Linked DNA regions of Homo sapiens: all the other regions are reported to be linked to region 3. Evidence: microRNA targets listed by miRTarBase, many of them from high-throughput screens and not tested one by one. Region 3 holds a microRNA gene; each other region holds the end of a gene's coding sequence.

Evidence for each region. Region 3 holds the annotated microRNA hsa-miR-3128 (UCUGGCAAGUAAAAAACUCUCAU, at 5,196-5,218, shown strand). A microRNA usually pairs through its seed, bases 2 to 8, with sites in the 3' UTR of a target mRNA and lowers its output. Matches are read on the target gene's strand: a 7mer-m8 pairs with bases 2 to 8, a 7mer-A1 pairs with bases 2 to 7 and ends in A, and an 8mer does both.
Region 1: miRTarBase lists ZNF234 as a target of hsa-miR-3128. Seed matches in the 3' UTR shown: 7mer-A1 at 5,747-5,753.
Region 2: miRTarBase lists ZDHHC6 as a target of hsa-miR-3128. Seed matches in the 3' UTR shown: 7mer-m8 at 6,177-6,183.

What each region holds. Positions count from the first base shown.
Region 1 is chr19:44,157,353-44,164,552 of GRCh38, reverse strand. ZNF234 (zinc finger protein 234) reads right to left here. Exons shown (of 6, transcript NM_006630.3): 6 at 4,240-7,200. The coding sequence ends at 6,434. Among named protein-coding and RNA genes, the nearest start is that of ZNF226, 4.1 kb to the left of the region's middle.
Region 2 is chr10:112,424,297-112,431,496 of GRCh38, forward strand. ZDHHC6 (zDHHC palmitoyltransferase 6) reads right to left here. Exons shown (of 11, transcript NM_022494.3): 11 at 6,004-6,611. The coding sequence ends at 6,508. ACSL5 (acyl-CoA synthetase long chain family member 5) reads left to right here. Exons shown (of 21, transcript NM_203379.2): 18 at 1,042-1,185; 19 at 1,962-2,063; 20 at 2,492-2,563; 21 at 2,922-4,080. The coding sequence ends at 3,062. Among named protein-coding and RNA genes, the nearest start is that of ZDHHC6, 19 kb to the right of the region's middle.
Region 3 is chr2:177,254,002-177,261,201 of GRCh38, reverse strand. MIR3128 (microRNA 3128) reads left to right here and starts at 5,192; the gene lies at 5,192-5,257. The region is part of intron 1 of NFE2L2 (NFE2 like bZIP transcription factor 2); the gene reads left to right. RefSeq lists a silencer at 3,907-4,201.

The DNA of each region.
Region 1 (7,200 bases), not on the chromosome of region 3:
CAGAAGGACCATGTATGACTTAGAAAGCGGGACCTCACCAGACACTGAATCTGCTGGCACCCGATCTGGGGCTTATGTGCCAGCAATTTCACTCCTAAGTAAATACCCAGGAGAACTGAAAGATATCCACACAAAAACTTGTTCTAAAAAAGTTCATAGCAGCATTAGTCATAATAGTCAAAAAGTGGAGAAGACCCAATGTCCATCAGCTGATGAGTGGATAAACAAAATGTGGTCTAGCCATATAATGCAATATTATTTAGTAATGTGAATGAACAAAATATTGATTCATGTTATAACATAGATGAACTCTGAAGACATTATGTCCAATGAAAGAAGCCAGACACAAGATACCATATATGGTATGATTCCATTTATATCAAATGTGCAGAATAGGCAAGTCCATAGAGACAGAAAGTAAATTAGTTGTCTCCAAGGCTGGGGAGATGTAGTTGGGAATGGGGAGTGACTGTCAATATGTAGGGTTTTTTTTTTCTTACTTTTTTAGAGACAGCGTCTTGTTATGTTTCCCAGAATGGAGTACAGTGGCTATTCACAGGCATGATCATAGCACACTGCAGCCTTAAATTCTTGGGCTCAAGTGATCCTCCCGCCTCAGCCCCCTGGGTAGTTGAGACTACAGGCATGCACCACCACACCCAGCTCATGTAGGGGATTTCTTTTGGGAGCAGATGAAAGAGTTCTAGGATTAGATAGTGGTAATCATTACATAATATTGTGGATCTTTTCAAAGATAGAAAAATGTTATGTGACAATATCCCCTAAAGCGTTAAAATGTAGCTAAACTCAAAGCTAAGACAGGGAAATCCCAACGGCCAAAGATGAACAGGCAAGTTAGGCCCACAGATGAAAAAACTGAATGATCCCACAAGGGCTGGGCATACTAGGTAAGAGCTAAGGAATTAATCTTGTGTGTGAATGGGAGTTAGAGTAGCCATGCATTTTGGGAGACATGAACTATACAATATTACAAATGAAACAGTTCTCTCCTCTTGACTGTGAACAAACAACAACCAACCAAAAACAAAGCCAGATAGCTCCCAGCTTCTACAGCTGTCTTGTGACTAACCTGAAAACTCTGGTCATGAGGAGGGTAGATGTAGACTGTACCTACAGTCTTATCAGTTATGGGGCAGAGGGGCAAGAAATTATTTGGTTTAGTCTACTGGTTTTGGTTACAAATTACCTTGAAGGAAGATGACCTAATGTGGTATCTGGTGATACAAAGAAAGAAAAAGAAAGAAAAGAATATAGGTACTGGATTTCTGAAGCCCTTTGTTCAGAAAAGAGTTAACATAGGCCTGAGACTGTTGTACTTAAAAGGCCTGCTTGCAACATGCTATAGTTTGATGGTGTTCCCTTGTTAAAACTTAATCCCTTCTTGCTTTTTCATCACTTCCACCATATGAGGACATAGCATCTGTCTCCTCCAGAGGATGCAGCAACTGGATGCCATATTGGAAGCAGACAGCAGCAGCCCTCACCAGATGTTAAACCTGCCAGCATCTTGACCTTGGACTTCCCAGCCTCAAGCACTATGACAGATAAATTTATATTGTTTATAAATTACCTAATCTGTGGTATTCTGTTATAGCAGCGCAAGATATAAGGTTAGCCCTTGACTGGTATCTGGGAACTTGAATTTCAGGAGGATTTCCACAATTCTCTGATGAGAGTGGCTCACCATGCCCCGGCTATTTGTATAATGTGATTTATGCTGAATTCCTTCTGGGAATCTAGAATTTTGGCCCAAGCTGGCCTATGTGACCAGTTCCAAAACAAAACACAACGTAGTGCCTAGGGCACTAAGTCTCCATTGAGCTTACTGGGTAGACATTTCACATGTTTCAATGCTGAAAAAACAGTACATCATGAATGATTCTACAGGGAGTGGATTATTGGAAGCCTGTACCTGATTTCTTCTGGACTTCATCCCATGCACATTTTCCCTTTGCTCAACTGACTTGGTATCTTTTACTACAATAAATCATAGTGACTATGATAACATAGGGTGTCTTGAGTCCTCCTAGTGAATTACAAGAATGTGAAGGTGGTATTATCAATCCCCAGCATACCATGCACATTGAGGTAGCATGGACCTTAATGAGTAGCAAGCATCCAGTGAAGGTATACTGAAGAAAATCAATAGTGGAAAAAAGTCTCCCCAGTTAGATATAATTTATTGAGTAAAGCCCTTTAATCCAGCAGTTCACAACCTTTTTGGCACAGGGGACCAGCTTTGCAGAAGACAATATTTTTCCACAAGGTGAGGTGGGGGGATGGGGATGGTTTGGGGATGATTCAAGCACATTACATTTATCATTTTATTTTCACAAGGAGCGAGCAACTTAGATCCTTTCTTTAAAAAAAAAAAAAGAGTTTCGCTCTTGTTGCCCAGGCTGGAGTGCAATGGCGCAACCTCGGCTCACTGCAACTTCTATCTCCTGCGTTCAAGTGATTCTCCTGCCTCAGTCTCCCAAGTAGCTGGGATTACAGGCACCTGCCACCATGCCTGGCTAATTTTTGTATTTTTAGTACAGATGGGGTTTCACTATATTGGCCAGGCTGGTTTCCAACTCGTGACCTCAGGTGATCCGCCCACCTCAGCCTCCCAAAGTGCTGAGATTAAAGGCATGAGCCACTGCGCCTGGCTGCAACCTAGATCCTTCACATGCGTAGTTCACAATAGGGTTCATGCCACTGATCTGACAGAAGGCAGAACTCAGCTTTGCTCACTTGCCCACTGCTCACCTCTTGCTGTCTGGCCCTGTTCCTAACAGGGTCTGTGGCCTAGGGGTTAGGGACCCATGCTTTAATCAACTACACTGAAAATATCACCATCATGTCCAAGGAATATGGAATGTCATTCAAACCCACTCTTTGTCCTTACTGGTTCCACATCCAGTAAGTGGATTGCACTATATTCTGCTCTTATGCACACTTTTTCCTCAGTGAACCTTTTTAAACATACCTCCCTAACATATGTATACCACTTTGTTTTCATTTCCAGGATTCTCTCTGTGTTACAGATTAATGCTTTAAAAAATGTAGCAAGCAAGGCCGGGCACAGTGGATCATGCCTGTAATCCCAGCACTTTGAGAGGCCGAGGCGGGCAGATCACTTGAGGTCAGGAGCTCGAGACCAGCCTGGCCAACATGGTGAAACCTCGTCTGTACTAAAAATACAAAATTTAGGCCAGGCACGGTGGTTCACACCTGTAATCCCAGCACTTTGGGAGGCCGAGGGCGGATCACAAGGTCAAGAGATCGAGACCATCCTGGCCAACATGGTGAAACCCCGTCTCTACTGAAAATACAAAAATTAGCTGGGCGTGGTGGTGCACACCTGTAGTCCCAGCTACTCAGCAGGCTGAGGCAGGAGAATTGCTTGAACTTGGGAGGCAGAGGTTGCAGTGAGCTGAGATTGCGCCACTGCACTCCAGCCTGGCAACAGAGTGAGATTCCGTCTCGGGGAAAAAAAAAAAAAAAAAACTGAGTTGGACATAGTGGCACGCCCCTGTAATCCCAGCTACTCAGGAGGCTGAGGCAGGATAATCATTTGAATTCGCGAGGCGGAGGTTGCAGTGATTCAAGATTGCACCACTGCACTCCAGCCTGGGCAACAGAGAAAGACTCCATCTCAAAAAAAAAAAAGAAGTGTAGCAGACATTAATTGCAAAGATACAATTGTTCACACTCATCCATTTATCCACATATTCAGAGAATTTTTTTGTTTTTAAAATTGGCTTCCAGAATCTATTAATTATGATCTTATGTGCCATATAACAATATAGAACAATCATATTTTGAAGGGATTATCATATAGCACTTTTTAAAATTCTAATGTACATAATTTACTGCTTTGGTAATACTGATGTTCAATAAGAAATTAAAATGTAATTTATGGAATTATAAAATGGAAAAATACCACAAAATGCTCATTGCAAGAGAAAATTGCTAAAAAAAAAAAAGTATCCTTTACATATTATCTTATGCATGTACATACACACTCACTCATAAAAATGTATAGATTTCATTATGCTACAAAGGCAATAGTCTATGATCTTCCAAAGCCCATATTTTTTCTTTATCCTGTCATTACAGATACCTGCCGCCATTTTAATAGCTTCAGGTCAATACAGGAATGAAAATATCAAAAGTCAAATTATTATAGAGGAACACACACTTCCATTTAAAACAATTCATTGACATCACTGATATGTTACTTAGTCTTTTTGGTATTTTAATCTCATAATCATAAATTCCAATTATATAACTTCCAAATCAGAGATATACAGTGTAAATTCTGAAAAACACTCTTCCTTAAACCCATGTTTTACTGCCAGCAATAGGGAAAAGCATGGTAAATGCCAATCCTGCCCAAATAATAAATTTGATAAAATTATCAAATTTCCACAAGTTGTTTTTGGTATTCGCTTAATGGGTGTGGGGCAAAAATATGGTACAGCCCCTACCTCAGAAGTTTTTTTTTTTTTTTTTGAGACGGAGTCTTGCTCTGTCACCCAAGCTGGAGTGCAATGGCGCAGTCTCGGCTCACTGCAACTTCCGCCTCCCGGGTTCAAGCAATCCTCCTGCCTCAGCCTCCTGAGTAGCTGGGATTACAGGCGCCTGCCACCATGCCCAGCTAATTTTTGTATTTAGTAGAGATGGGGTTTCACCATGTTGGTCAGGCTGGTCTCTAAGTCCTGACCTCAGGTGATTCACCTGCCTTGGCCTCCTAAAGTGCTGGGGTTACAGGCATGAGCCACCACACCCAGCCAGAAGTTTTAATAAGAGAATGCTACAGTTATTAGACGGCAATCATGTCAAAGTCTGGATGGAAATGTGGAAAGTCAGAAATCAAATAAATTCAAGGGGGCTGATAAAAATTTGGCATTGGCAACTACTTCTGACACTTTAAAAGTGTTAGAGTAAACCCCTGCCTTAACATTAATGGATTAAAAACTCAATTGTGTGATATTCAGTAAACTCTTGTCAGGTTAATTAAATTTTTTTCAGTCTGCACTGTCAGAAAAATCACAAAATATACTTCAACTTGGCCGGGTGTGGTGGCTTACGCCTGTAATTTAACACTGGGAGGCCAAGGAGGTTGGATTGCTTGAGCTCAGGTGTTCAAGACCAGCCTGGGCAATGTGGTGAAACCCTTTCTCTACCAAACATACAAAAATTAGCTGGGTGTGGTGGCACGTGCCCGTGGTCCCAGCTACTCAGAGGGAGAGATGGGCAGATGGATGGAGCCTGGGAGGACGAGGCTGCAGTGAGCCATGATTATGCCACTGCACTCCAGCCTCGGTGACAGAGCGAGGTCCTGTCTCAAAAATAAAATTAAAAATAAAGGTACTTCAACTTATGTTTTATAAAACCTTTGGGAAACTAGACAGGCTCTCAATAAGAACCAAATTTGAGAGAAGAGACTACAGAGAGGACAGGTGTCAACTGTAAAAGAGTAATATCATATTAATATTGTAGGCTGCAGTATCCAGTGGTTTTCTGCATTTCAACAAATGTTCATTTCTGCAAATAATTTTATTTCGCAGGTTTCTTCCTTTGGATACAATGTTCAAATATTGTGCATTTACTCCTTTTGATTCAGTTAACAAACAAGTATTGAGCACACCTACAAGCACTAGTCAATGTTAAGGTTGTATAGATTCGGTAGCAAAGTTCCTGCCCCCATGGAGCTTACAGTCTAATGGACATCAATTCTGGCACCTTCATCAGTATACTTTTTTAAAGCCCAGGTCAAACTCATTTTCTAAGTCCTATTTCCTAGGTAACATGTCATAAATGTCAAAGTTTTGACAGAATGCTTTACTGTACCACTTAACAAGGGTTCTCAGCTGTGTGGTCACTGGACCACTGGGATATGCTGAGCTATTGCTTAAACACTGACTTAAATAAAACAAATATTTTAAATAAGAGAATGCTACTGTAATTAGAAGGCAATCATTTCAAAGTCTAGATGGAGGCCAGGGGCGGTGGCTCATGCCTGTAATCCCAGCACTTTGGGAGGCCGAGGTGGGTGGATCACATGAGGTCAGGAGTTTGAGACCAGCCTGGCCAGTATGGTGAAACTCCATCTCTACTAAAAATACAAAAATTAGCCAGGCGTGGTGGTGTGCACCTGTAATCCACTGAGGCAGGAGAATCACTTGAACCCGGGAAGTGGAGGTTACAGTGAGCTGAGATAGCACCACTGCATCCAGCATGGGCAACAGAGCGAGATTCTGTTTCAAAACAAAAAATAAAAAACAAAAAAAAGTCTAGGTGGAAATGTGGAGCGTTACAAATCAAATAAATTCAAAGAGGTTGATAAAGAAAATTTTTCCCTCCTATGAAATCTAATTACAAGCATTCAGGTTGTACATGAGTTCTGTTTTTTTTTTTTTAATCACCTTGTAGAACTTCCTCCCTCTGACAACTCTCTGATGTTCTTACTATTCTCATCATTTTCATAAAATGTACCAGCAGCATGAATTTTGTGATGACTTACAAGATTTGATCGCCAGCTGAACCTCTTACCACATATCTCACATTTGTAAGGTTTTTCCCCAGTGTGAACTCGCCTATGATACTGTAATTGTGAAGACCGACTGAAGACTTTACCACATACATCACATTTGTATGGTTTCTCTCCTGTGTGGACACTCTGATGAAGTTGGAGACTTGAGGCCTGACTGAAGTGCTTCCCACACTCCCCACATGTATAGGGTTTTTCTCCTGTGTGCACCCTCTGATGCATGTCAAGGTTCAAGCTCCACTTGAAGCCCTTTCCACACTCCCCACATTTGTATGGCTTTTCTCCAGTGTGGACTTTTTGATGGGCTTGAAGGTGTGCACTCCGACTGAAGCTCTTCCCACACTCTTCACATTTAAATGGTTTTTCCCCACTGTGAACTCTCTGATGGGTTAGAAGATGCGAGGCCTGACTGAAGACCTTCCCACACTCCTCACAATTATATGGTTTCTCCCCTGTGTGGATCCTACAATGAATTTTAAGATCTGCTCTACGACTAAATCCCTTTCCGCACTCTTCACATTTGTATGGTTTCTCACCGGTATGGATCAGCTGGTGAATCTGAAGTCGTGAGCTCTGATTGAAGCCCTGCCCACACTCTTCACACTTAAAAGGTTTCTGTACACTATGTGCTTTCAGAT
Region 2 (7,200 bases), not on the chromosome of region 3:
TTTGTCTTAACTATGTGCTGGGGAAGTGGGAATGTCACTAGAACTTAAAACTCCTTTCTTGCTCAATCAATATTTAAGATTTAAGTGAGATTTAAGGAATGCTTGACAATGTAACTTTTAAGAACACTGGTCCTAACGATGCATTTTATTGATTTGGGTTTGGTAGTATCTTGCTAATATATTTGTTTCTGTCTAGTAACAGAATTAAATAACACTCTAATAAGCCTAGGATGTAAGCAACAGATATGTCCCCACACCAGGGTTATAGAAGGCTGCACCTTATTAATCACTTTCAGATAATGAACGTTAGGCTGAATTGATGGCTAATTTATCAAGTCGGCCTTGTGATAGTTCCAGTGTTGGTTTAGTTAGTCGCCCTACTTAGGGTGTTAGCATGTGGATTTTATTTGCCATTTGTCCCAATTCTACAATTCAAATCCCTAAAGACCTAAGCTCCTCAGACCAATTAGTTCAGAGAAATGAAGCTGCAAATGACCTTTGGTGGCTGGTCAGAGTCCTCTCAGCCCTGTTGCTGTCCTAACAAGCCCAGTAATTGAGTTGCTTGATTAGCACAGTGGAGCTGTTTGAGCCTGCTCCCGGATCTAACAAGGAGGAAAACATAACAGGGAGTCAAGTGGTGGGAGAACTATTCAAATCAAATCAAAAGTCTAAACAAAAGACAACACCTCTATTTCTGAGAGTTCTGAAAATGAACTAATTGGAAATTAGTGATTGGAAATTGAGAGCTGTGCAATTTCTTCCTTGGATGAGGCATCAATTTGCATAACTCCAGTAGATCCAGGAGACTTTCTCTAAGGCTGCGCATTGACTCTCCACATAGATATACAGTAAAGACAGGTTCTTGCTGCACGATGCTTCCCTCCCCTTTCACCAAAGCCAAGAAAGAGAAATGAAAGACAGCTCAAAAGTCTCTGGAGAAATCAGCTTTAGAGAAGAAAGATGACTGTGACTTCACCACTCTCCCCACTGATATCATCTCTGTGGCTCAAAAATACTGATACTTTTATCTGTCTCATGTAGAATGGAACTCTGAAGATCATCGACCGTAAAAAGAACATTTTCAAGCTGGCCCAAGGAGAATACATTGCACCAGAGAAGATAGAAAATATCTACAACAGGAGTCAACCAGTGTTACAAATTTTTGTACACGGGGAGAGCTTACGGGTAATATATCATTTTAACAATAGCCCATTTCAGTCACAAACCATGCTGGTTCTTGTAGCTACAGGAAATTTGTATAGTTGGGTTCAGAATGAGAAGATCCAAGCTTATAAAACTAAAAAAAAAAAAAAAAATGAAGTTACATTCCAAACCTCAAATAAGGCAATTTCAATTTAAAAAATTTCAAAACTATGATGGACGTTGTACACAAGTCAGTAGAATTGTTTAGAATGGCTATACTAAAAGGTAATGATTCAGTAAAAAATGAGCTCCACATTGCACTTAGTTCCCATTCCTTAAGGAGTTCCTTAAAGCTATGTTTAAGAGCAGTATGTATAAAACAACAAACTGTTGCAATATATATAAAGCAACAAACAAAAGTTTGATCAACAAACTGTTGTTTTATACATACTATGCTTAAACGTAGCTTTAAGGAACTCCTTATCCCAAAACAACGAACTGTTTTATACACACTGTGCTTAAATGTAGCTTTTAGGGGACAAGGGGAGAGTTGACATGGACAAGCCAGAGGCGCTTTAAGCTTAATGTTGAAGGATCAGATTTGAATGGAACATCTTTGTAATGAGATATTGAGTGGGAAAATGGGATTACAGTTCCATGGTGTTGAAAATATATGGTGAGAAAAGAACACTAGTACTGGATTTAAGGTTTTGGGGAAATAACTATTACAATGACATAATTCTGCTTTATTTAACTACTGGGGGACATCCCTACATAACTTCTCTCATGCCCTTGCACCTTTTATTTCCTTTCCATAGTCATCCTTAGTAGGAGTGGTGGTTCCTGACACAGATGTACTTCCCTCATTTGCAGCCAAGCTTGGGGTGAAGGGCTCCTTTGAGGAACTGTGCCAAAACCAAGTAAGTCTTGCCTAGGAAAGCTTTATGCACACCCATGGGCCCATCGTGGAGGAGAGGATGCCTCACCAGTTCCTGCATCTGTCACAAGTGGCTGCAGCCCAAACAGACTGAATAGTTTTATGGGACTCGGGGATAGGATGGAGAGTTTAAAAAATAAAACTCTCTTTTCTATTTAAAATAATATGTTCATTGTGGGAAAAGATTGGGAAAGAAGAGTAAAAATGCTATTCAGAGAAAACTGTTAACACTTAGATGTGCCTTTTCTTCTCAGTTTTTCTTTCAATATTGGGCATATAATGTGCTTGTGCATAGTTTTATATTCCTGCTTTCATACTGCATGGCTTTGACAGGCACTTTGAGTTGGTTCATGCTTAGCCCTTCAGGCTTTTTGAAACAGCCATGCTTTAAGTGATGTTTTGTATTCTTAGGTTGTAAGGGAAGCCATTTTAGAAGACTTGCAGAAAATTGGGAAAGAAAGTGGCCTTAAAACTTTTGAACAGGTGTGTGCTACCACTGATGTTATACTGGCCTCTTGTCAGAAAGTTTTGTTTAAAGTTTCCATCTAATGAGGTTTAAATGTATAATTTCTAAGGAATTGATTTTAGATTTTGTGCCATTAACTACAAAATGACCTTTTGTAGTTACTTGTACAGCGCCCTTTTTTTGCTGTTTATTGTCCATTCTCCCTTCTCCCTACTCATTACTTTCTTAAATTATGTTTGTGGGAATGGGCATGTGTTACTGTTACCTTTACCCTTTCACTGCATCAACCTCACTTTCTTCACAGAGCACTCAGGGGGCTCTGCAGAGAAGTCCAAATCACTAATGAGCATGGATGTGTGTGTGTTCATCTTCCAGGTCAAAGCCATTTTTCTTCATCCAGAGCCATTTTCCATTGAAAATGGGCTCTTGACACCAACATTGAAAGCAAAGCGAGGAGAGCTTTCCAAATACTTTCGGACCCAAATTGACAGCCTGTATGAGCACATCCAGGATTAGGATAAGGTACTTAAGTACCTGCCGGCCCACTGTGCACTGCTTGTGAGAAAATGGATTAAAAACTATTCTTACATTTGTTTTGCCTTTCCTCCTATTTTTTTTTAACCTGTTAAACTCTAAAGCCATAGCTTTTGTTTTATATTGAGACATATAATGTGTAAACTTAGTTCCCAAATAAATCAATCCTGTCTTTCCCATCTTCGATGTTGCTAATATTAAGGCTTCAGGGCTACTTTTATCAACATGCCTGTCTTCAAGATCCCAGTTTATGTTCTGTGTCCTTCCTCATGATTTCCAACCTTAATACTATTAGTAACCACAAGTTCAAGGGTCAAAGGGACCCTCTGTGCCTTCTTCTTTGTTTTGTGATAAACATAACTTGCCAACAGTCTCTATGCTTATTTACATCTTCTACTGTTCAAACTAAGAGATTTTTAAATTCTGAAAAACTGCTTACAATTCATGTTTTCTAGCCACTCCACAAACCACTAAAATTTTAGTTTTAGCCTATCACTCATGTCAATCATATCTATGAGACAAATGTCTCCGATGCTCTTCTGCGTAAATTAAATTGTGTACTGAAGGGAAAAGTTTGATCATACCAAACATTTCCTAAACTCTCTAGTTAGATATCTGACTTGGGAGTATTAAAAATTGGGTCTATGACATATTGTCCAAAAGGAATGCTGTTCTTAAAGCATTATTTACAGTAGGAACTGGGGAGTAAATCTGTTCCCTACAGTTTGCTGCTGAGCTGGAAGCTGTGGGGGAAGGAGTTGACAGGTGGGCCCAGTGAACTTTTCCAGTAAATGAAGCAAGCACTGAATAAAAACCTCCTGAACTGGGAACAAAGATCTACAGGCAAGCAAGATGCCCACACAACAGGCTTATTTTCTGTGAAGGAACCAACTGATCTCCCCCACCCTTGGATTAGAGTTCCTGCTCTACCTTACCCACAGATAACACATGTTGTTTCTACTTGTAAATGTAAAGTCTTTAAAATAAACTATTACAGATACTTACGTTGTGGTGTTTCTTTCCTCATGGACCATGATGAAAATCAGTCTTAAACAAGGACCCCTTAAAAATCAAGTACAGTATCTGTTCTTAAACTTGGGTACACAATAGAATTATCTAGGAAGTTTAAAAAGACACTAATGCCCAGCACTTTGGGAGGCCGAGGCGGACGGATCATGAGGTCAGGAGACCGAGAACATCCTGGCTACTATGGTGAAACCCCATCTCTACTAAAAATACAAAAAACTAGCTGGGCGTGGTGGCGGGCACCTGTAGTCCCAGCTACTCAGAAGATTGAGGCAGGAGAATGGCATGAACCCGAGAGGCGGAGCTTGCAGCGAGCCGAGATCGCACCACTGCATTCCAGCCTGGGTGAAAGTGTGAGACTCTGTCTCAAAAAAAAAAAACAAAAACAAAACAAAAAAACCACTAATGCCTGGTTGCCACTCCAGGGATTCTGGCTTAAATGGCCGGATACAGCCTGGGCACTGAGATTGTTAAGAAGACCCACAGATGATTCTAGTCTGCGAACAGGTTAGTGAAGAAAAGTAAGTTCTGAAGACCAAACCTTCTTATCCCATAGCTGTAAAGAATAAAACAAATACCAGCTGAGCCAAAACTCCAACTGAGCACAAGTCATATCCATTCTTTTACCATCTTTGTTGTACTCTAATTATAATCTTGAATATTAATAGTATTCTTTTCTGGCCTCCAACTGGAGTTAAAGAGAATGTTCTTGGATGGTCTTTCTAGATTTTGAGCCCAGAAAAGCCAAAGAAATATCTATTCTTAAGGATCTGAAACAAAAGGGTAGGCAGGAATTAACTTTTAAAGTCTAGCTCCCATTATCACTTTAACTTTCTCGCCTTCACTTCCTTTCCTATTCTCCCCTCACGCATTACAGCTGAACCTCACTAGTTACCTTCCTGTTTCTCAAACGTGTCAGACACAGGTCCAGCCTGTTTTTGTTCTTGCTGCTGTCTCTAAAATGCAAATATCCCAAAGCACATGACTTGTCCCCTCATCTGCTTCAAATGCCAACTCAAGACTGTCCTACCTTCTTGCTTCACAATAACATGACTCCATCTTACATATATTTTACCTGTCTGTTCACTGCTGAATTCCCAAGTGCTCTTCCCTTATCCTCAACTATTACAGGCCTGGCCCCCAAAGCTTCACATTCCCTGCCTTGGAAAGGTTTCTGAAGTCCAGAGAAATAGGCTTTCTCTTTCCTTCTGTGATTCCACTGTTATGTTTAGACAAGCCCAATTTAAGCATCCAAGCCCACCAGCTTGGATCCTACCACTCACACAAGCTTCAGCTTTTTACTCAAGGGTACATGAGTAGTTTGATATCACTATGTTTAAAGTCTAGAACACTACTGCCACGGGATCCTTGGGGTGTTGCTTCCCCAGCTGGAATCCTCTGTGGCTGGCAGCCCAAAGTCCAGAGGGGGCCTAGGCGGCAGGGCGCTGGTGTCAGCACCACTCAGAGCTCACGTACACCTGGCCAGGTCCTCACAGCACCCGGGCTTGGCCTCACCTTTGCTCCAGAGCGAGTGCCAGGAGCAGGAAGAGGCCAAGCAGTTGTTGGGGGGGGGGTGTGGGGGGGGTATTTCCCCTCGGCCCCCTAGAGCACAAGGATGCCCGGGTCCGCAGCCACGGCTGGACAGCTGTAGCTACGCTTGGCTCCTGCCTATCACGGCTCCCCCTCAACACCCCTCAGGCCACCACTGCCATCCGCTGCCATCACTATGACCGCAATATCCCATTAATAGGGTTAATATCTTGAAGCAAGTGTGTCATGTCTTAAGCCACGTTTTAAGATGCCAGTTGTCCACAGGGCAGCAGAGCAGTTTTTCCATAAGGAACTAAGATGAACCTTTTTAGTCAGCAAAAAGAAAAATGCTTTAAGTAAAAACTGATTATACCCAACATCCATTGATCTTTATTTGATTTGACAAAATCTGCATTTTTAAAAGACAGGTAACAAAATCTGAGGTTATACTGAATCTGACAAATTGAGTTCTATAGTATCTAGAATATCATATAAGAAATATCAACTGAGGGAAAAGAGAAGTACCACATGCAGATGCTCCTGGCAAGGGGGGAACTGTATCTGCAGGTGAGGTCCAGAGTGTGCAGTGCATAAGAAAATCCTACAGAAAATGCCGTTAACTTACTTGGATGAAATGTTTTTCCTTTGAGGGGGAGGAAGAGGTGGTAAAGAGGGGCAGGAATTCAAAGGCATATGCAGAATGGCTTCTCCATTTCAAAATGGTAATAAAAATATTTAAATCATGGCACTAGGGCACCTTTGAGGAAAAGAACATCTTAACCAGAGTAGGCTCATTGCATAATTCTTTAGTAATATGTACAATTTTCAAGTAATTAAGCAGACTTAAAGGATAATTTTGTTTTAACAGCAGCTATCTATTTTTCTTCTCCCCCTCTGGGGCTTGATCTGTTTCAGCATCACAGGGACACTTTTCCACACATTTTCTAGGGAACCAACCCCTTATTCTTGAAACACCTGAGGGAGAAAATGAAATTGAGGTGAAATAGTCTGATGGATGACAGTGACATTACTGAAAGCAGTAAGTCCTATTACTTCAAATTAATAAGCTTGTAGTTAGACTTTTATTCCCCACTTTGCTATCTATTATAAGCACAGTTTGAAGGGGAAAAAAATAAGATTTTTAAATGTTCATAACAAGCTAGGAACAGGTATTTCCCAAATTTGATGATCCCGAATAGGGACTAATGTGGTTAAAGACAGCTCCTAACTAGAGTCAGGGGGAACTCGGTATGGGTGTTTACTTATATGTGTATGATCAGGAAAGGTGTTTTTGGCACACCATCACACTGTCTTTTCCAGGGAACTATCTTCTTGTAGTCTTTGTAAATTTCCTTTTTAGACTTTTTCTAACATATATATTTCTTTCTTTTTTTTTTTTGAGATGGAGTCTTGCTCTGTCACCTAGGCTGTAGTGCAGTGGCACGATCTCAGATTACTGCAACCTCTGCCTCCCGGGTTCAAGCAATTCTCCTGCCTCAGCCTCTGGAGCAGCTGGGATTACAGGCACACACCACCATGCCCGGCTAATTTTTGTATTTTTAGT
Region 3 (7,200 bases):
TGTTTTTTGTTTTTTGTTTTTTTTTTTTTTTGAGATGAAGTCTTGTTCTGTTGCCCAGGCTGGAATGCAGTGGCCTGATCTTGGCTCACTGCAGCCTCTACTTCCCGGGTTCAAGTGATTCTCCTGCTTCAGCCTCCCGAGTAGCTGGGATTATAGGCACCCACTGCCCGGCTAATTTTTGTATTTTTAGTAGAGATGGGGTTTTACCATGTTGGCCAGGCTGGGCTGGTCTCGAACTCCTGACCTCAGGTGATCCACCCGCCTCGGCCTCCCAAAGTGTTGGGATTACAGGTGTGAGCCACTGCGCCAGTCTGTTTCTTAATATAATAATAGTTTTAAAAATTTCTGATGTTTGGCAATGTCCAAGATTCTGCCTCACATTTTTCAGAAACTGCCTTTTTTCTTAATTAAATCTCTTAGCTACTGGAGTCTTTGCCTTTGTTTGCCTTGCTACTTGGTACATTTCTTCTGTTCCATTGGCTCTTTTTGTTTTGAAGTAGTGCTCAAAAATAAGTTTGGTAGTAAGAATATGGTGAAGAGTGTGACAGACAGGGTTAAACCAGGCTGAAGGAAAGAGAGCAGAATGGGGAAAATTTGAGTTGAAAACAGCTAGCAGAAAGCTGATGGCGCAAATTCAACCCTAATCTCATGTTTTGGCACTTCTGAACTATAGCAAGCATAAGGGCTCAACTCTTATCTAGTTGAAGCTTACTTGGGTCTTTGAGAATAGTACATCTCAAAATTAAACACTTTCTTAGTCCTTATTGTTAAGTTGTTTTTGGAATTATTGTCTTATTTGTCTGAATTAAGTGTGCTGCAGGACTTATAGGATCTGATGGATGATTTGCCTAAAAGTTGGTCCAGGTCAACCTCAGGGCATTTAAATGCTTGGTCCAGCCACTTTCTGAAAGTTGACTGAAATATGTTGCACAGCAGGGTAGAGGAGGACAAGTTTACTAGATGTCATTTTTAACCTGCTTGTCTTCATCTCTGACTGTAGAAATGTATATTCATTATAAGTTTGCCACAAATAGAGAATAGAGTTTATTCTTTGATCATCTAATTTCTAGGAGCTATTGAAATTTCACTGCTACCTGCTTTTAAATAAGCGCCAACAAACATTTATTAAAAGGGCTTTAAGGTATAGGCCAAGATTTATTCAATTGCTAATGGTATGTTTTCTGTAAATGAAAGCAAAAATATGTTCAAGTGTATAATATTAAATATTAACATTCAGAAACTTGGAGAAATACAGATGGCTTTTTTTTTTGAGACGCAGTCTTGCTCTGTCGCCCAGGCTGGAGTGCAGTGGCATGATCTCCGCTCACTGCAAGCTCCACCTCCCGGGTTCACGCCATTCTCCTGCCCCAGCCTCCCGAGTAGCTGGTACTACAGGCACCCGCCACCACGCCTGGCTAATTTTTTGTATTTTTAGTAGAGATGGGGTTTCACTGTGTTAGCCAGGATGATCTCGATCTCCTGACCTCATGATCCGCCTGCCTCAGCCTCCCAAAGTGCTGGGATTACAAGCTTAAGCCACCGCGCCTGGCCTAGATGGATTTCTTGTACCAGACTATACCCTAGACATGAAAACAAGACTGTTAAACAAAATCCTGTGCTACCTAAAGTTTGAGCCTTCTGTGTGTCAGTTTCTGCCATAATAAATAACTCTTAACTATGATTATTAAGTATATTAAGAACTTTGAGTAGGGGAGGCACGTTTAATCATTCGTTTTTACGGCATATGTACTATAATACCTGTGTGTTGCAAATCCTGGTATTTAAAAGTCTTTTTGTGTATTTGAGCATGTAAGTTTATTTGGTCCAAACTGCTGGTACTAGTAAAGACAAGTCCAGGGCATAAGTAGGACTTACAGCACCAAGTTCGTCTTTTTTTTTTGAGACAGAGTCTCAGTCGGTCACCCAGGCTGGAGTGCATTGGTACAGTCTGGGCTCACTGCACCCTCCACCTCCCGAGTTCAAGCGATTCTCCTGCCTCAGCCTCCCAAGTAGCTGGGATTACAAGTGTGTGCCGCCACGCCCGGTTAATTTTTGTATTTTTAGTAGAGATGGAGTTTCACTATGTTGGCCAGGCTGATCCCGACCTCAGGTGATGTGCCCACCTTGGTCTCCGAAAGTGCTGGGATTATAGGCGTGAGCCACTGCGCCTGACCTCCAAGTCCATCTTTCAAAGGCTCTGTTGATAATTGACTCTTGAGAGTCATTACAGTCCATCAACAGCCTGTATTCTGAATATTTGTTTTTAATTCTAAGACAATGCTAAATAGCCATTCCAAATAAGGTGAGAACTGAGACTTTAGGGCCTGTATTATCAGCTGTACACTGACAAGCTCTGAACTCTATTGCTTTTTCAAATCAGAGAAGAAAAATGAGTAAGAAAAGAAAAATATGGATCACTTAGGCTTTGATGCCTCCTCTGAGTTTATAGTGTTTACCTTCTGTATTACTTAGGTGATCCTCTCTAATGGCATTTTAAATCTCTGTTGATACTTGTCTTACTTATGTATCTGTTTTTTTTTCCTCTATAGTAGATAGAATTTATAGATATATATGTATTTTAAAGTAAGATACAATTTACGTACCTTACAATTTACCCATTTAATCTAATTCAGGGTTATGCAACCCTATGAATTTAGTAGTTTATTCATAGAGTTATGCAACCATCACTGTAATCAATTTTCAACACCCTCAAAAGAAACCCCATATCCATTAGCAGTCACTTCCCATTTCCCCTCAACTCTCCTGGCCCCTGGTAACTACTCAGTTATTTTCTGTACCTATGGATTTGCCTATTCTGGACATATCATGTAAATGGAATAGCATGTAAATGGAATCATACAGTATTTATCCTTCTGTTGCTGGCTTCTTTCACAGCAATATGTTTTCAAGGTTTAAAAATGTTGCAACGTATATCAATAGCGTCATTCCTTTTTATGGCTGCATACTATTCCATTGTATGGCTATACCACATTTTATTTATCCAGTTGATGATCATTTGAGTTGTTTCCACTTTTTATGTTTCTGTTTGTTTCTTACAGCAGTGGTTCTCAAACTGTTGTATATTAGACTCACCATCAGTATTTAAAAAACTAATGCCCAGGCCATATCCCTCATGAAATCAAAATCTCTGGGGGTGGGGCCCAGGCATCACTATTTTTTAAAGATTCTGAGGGGATTCTAACGAGCAGTCAGGTTTGAGAGCCAGTGCCCTAGGGCAGCAGTCCACAACCTTTTTAGCACCAGGGACTAGTTTTGTGGAAGACAGTTTTTCCATAGAAGGAGGTAGAGGATGGTTTCAGGATGAAACTGTTCCACCTCAGATCATCAGGCATTAGATTGTCCTAAGGAGCTGGCAACCTACATCCCTTGCATACTCAGTTTACAACAGGGTTCCGGCTTCTCTGATAAACTAATGCTGCTGCTAATCTGACAGGAGGTGGAGCTCAGGCGGGAATGCTCGCCTACTGCTCACCTCCTGCTGTGCGGCCTGGTTCCTAATGGGCCACTGACCCCTCCGCAGCCAGCAGGTGGGGACCCCTGCCCTAGGGGACCCACCTCAGTGCTTGGTATCCATTGAAGTATATAGTGATTTAGAAAATCTGGTTAGGATGTCTTATTTAAATCATGAAAGCAAGTGCTTTTGTCTTTGATCATTGCCCTTCACAGCCTTACAGTTAACACCTACATTCAGGAACTGTGTTTCAAAGTGCCTGGCGAGTGTTTGAAACTCACTAAATATATATAACCTGGGCTCATTAAACCCCTCCAGAAGATTTGGGTAACTTTGTTATGAAAGGGCTTCCCTGAAGTGGGTCAGCAGGATTGCTCTGTGTTTTTTCAGGAATGTGGCCTGTGATAACTTGCAATCTAGATTATTTGGAAATAGCACTGAGAGAAGCCAGTGAGGACAGAATGCTCAGAAGCTTGGGATAGGTGTTGAACATCCTGGAGGCCAGGACGGAACACTGTCTTACTCTAGGAAGCTGTGTTCCTGGGCCTCATTATCTTCCTCCGTTAAAAACAAAAGACTTAAATCTCCACAGCAGCTTTCAGCAACTTCATTTTTTGGTTCTCTGTATCTGCCTGATAAAGTCCCACTTTGTAGTGGCTCCCACTTATATTTACCTGAATGGCTTTTGGGTTGACATATTTGGAAACTGGGGCTAACTTCCAAACTGTTGGCAACTTGTGTGTGGGTGTGCGTGCCACAGCACAGCAGTCCCACTTGAGAGACTTGATGGTGTGGTGGTGGTTGGGGGGCTTCTGAAGCTGGCTTAGCCCCAGCCCTATACACCCACCCCACAGATGGTGGGAACAAGCCCAGAAGAGAGTGGGTAACTCTGTCCACTGTGGCCTCCACAGCCAAGGTTGCCAGGCAGAGCTCGCAAGGCCCAATTCCAGTCTTGTCTTTGACCGTTGCCCCTTTGTGTTGGGGGGGTGTATTTAGTCACCTTTCTGGAAGCATGCTTTTCTAATTCTAGTCATCAGTAGTTTGTTGCTTTAAGATTTTGAAAATGGTATCCTGTTATTTTACTTAGGAGTTTCGTATTGAATGGTGTACATAATGTGATTCAAGTACCTCAAAACAGAAGGACTTCAGTTAAGATTTAGGCTCTATGCAACATACACTTCTTGCATTTTCTCATTCAATGTCCTTTCCTTTTTTTTTTTTTTTTTTTTTGCAAGAATGTAGCTGACATTCAGAGTAGATTAGTACCTTCAATGTCTGTGTGAAAGAAATGACCTTAATATGAGGACAATATTGACTGTGTATTTAGGGGGCCCACTGTTAAGGCATATAGAATTTTGCTTTATTTCAGACCTGACAATCTCTTGTCTGCTCTGCTTCCGCATAAAATTATAATACTGCACATGGATGTAAAACCCAACCTATTCCCTGCCTGAGGGACTAGAATAGAGGGAAGAATGACTATAGTTCTTTGTTGCCTTTTGTGAAGGTAACAGGCACAGAGGTATGATGCATGATGGAATTATATACCTCTTCTTGAGGTGTTTGAGGGCTGACTAAGGACCTGTACTTTTTTTTTGGTTTGTTTTGCAGTACTGGGGCCAGGGAGCCTTGCTGTTGTGTCTAGAGAGTGTTGAAGAACCATGAATATTTCGCAAAAAGAAAATAATTTTTTTAACCATTAAAATTCCTGGTAGTGACTTCCTCTGGCAAGTAAAAAACTCTCATTTTCCTTAAAAAATGAGAGTTTTTTACTTGCAATAGGAAAACTTGCCAATTTTTCAAGTTATTTTTATTCTTGATGATTCTCAATGAGACATAATTAAAATACACATAGAAAAAACAACCGTAGGCCAGGTGCAGTGGCTCACACCAGTAATCCCAACACTTTGGGAAGTCAAGGTGGGAGGATCACTAGAGACCAGGAGTTTGAGATGAGCCTGGGCAACATATTGAGACACTGTCTCCTCAAAAAATTAAAAAAATTAGCTGGATCCAGTGGTGCACACCTGCAATTGTAGCTATTTGGGAGGCTAAGGTGGAAGAATAGCTTGAGCCCAGGAGTTTGAAGGTGCAGTGAGCCATAATCATGCCACTGTACTCCAGCCCAGGCAACAGAGTAAGATCATGTCTCAATGAAAAAAAGAAAAATCAACCCTAGTGGACTGGAACAGGGCTGGTTTACTTTGTGTCAGCTGCAGTGCCCCCACTCGCCAACCCACATGTTCTTCTCCTGCTGGTTCCCAAGCAGAGACCAGAACCAAGAATGAGAATCATCCTGTGGGTGCAGGTTGTATCTTATCCTCCAGAGACAGCACTTCACCCTCTGTTAGAAACTTCTTTACCACACTGCCTGTTTGGTGAAATCCTTAGGGCAGTGACTTCCAAACTGTGATCCAGGGGCCACCCTTGGTGGGAGGATCAGGAAGGAGGGGGAATGTATCTTAAGAAAAGTTGGGGGAAGCTCATATCTCTTCTCGTTGATCCTGAGAAGTAAAGTCTTTCCTCCTCAGAGAGATGCGGGTAGACATGACTCGCCTAGATAGAAGCTCATTCATCTCCCTCCCTTCTGCCTCTGCAGGACTCTTGGAAGTCTGGGTCCCCGGGAGTATGCGGCTCTTGCTCTGTGCTACAGGTTTCCAAAGTTCACTTGATAACAGTACAATTGTGCTGTAAATTGTGCAGTAATGGAGACTGAGGAAACAATTAGTCTTTCATCTTCATTCATGTTACCAGCTCACTTCCTATGGTGTGAAAAGAGCCAGACTTTGGAGTTAGGAGACATCTGAATACAGACAGAACTGGCAAGATTATGGGGAAGAAAAGGGAAAAGTAATGAATATTTTCAAAGAGGTTAAGCCATTTGGCCAGGACAACACTGCTTGCAGGTAGCAGAACTGGGATTTTGACTGTCCATAATCCCTATTCTCTGCTTGTTTTACTCCTTCCCTCTCTTCTTTCTTTTTTCATTGTCTAATGACCTACAGACATTCTGTCAGCTGCTAAAGAATGAGGGACTCCTTTATAAAGATTGATAGGACAGTGTCGCTACTTAAGGAGTTCCTTCCATGTGGACCAGTGGGGGCGCTGTTGACGCATGGGGCTGGACTTCTCTTTGGAGCAGAGTCCTGTTCCACGGATCGCTGTGACAAGCAGAAAGTGCCCCACCCCACCTCCATACAATTCCTAATGCTCCTGGGTGATACAACCGCCCCAGTGGAAGCACGGTGGTGCATGGACTTCTAGAGACCATTTGAAGCCAGGACATTGCTGCTTGTTCTTAGGAAATGGCAGAATATTACTTTCTTGTTTTTTGTAGGGAAGCCTGCCATCTCACCAGGTGGCAGCTTGTTTATACCTTTTATCCTAACCTGAAGCAGGTGATGGGACAGAGGTCATCGAATATAATGAAAGTGCCACAAAGGTAGAGTCTGGGTATATTTTATTTATGCAGGTAGAGTGACTTGTCCAGATCCCTTCACACAGAGCAACATTTAATATGGTAATTGTTACTGCTGAAGTTGGCCATTTCTCGGACCTACAGCTGCAAGGAATTGGTAACAAAAGGATAAACTAAACATTGTTACTATTTTAATTTTCAAGGAGATGAAGTTAAAATCATATATGTCATATCTCTCTGGGGCTTAGCCACCTTTTCTGCTGGGCACTTTTTGAAGAAGTCTGAATACTGAGATAGGAGAGTAAAGGGG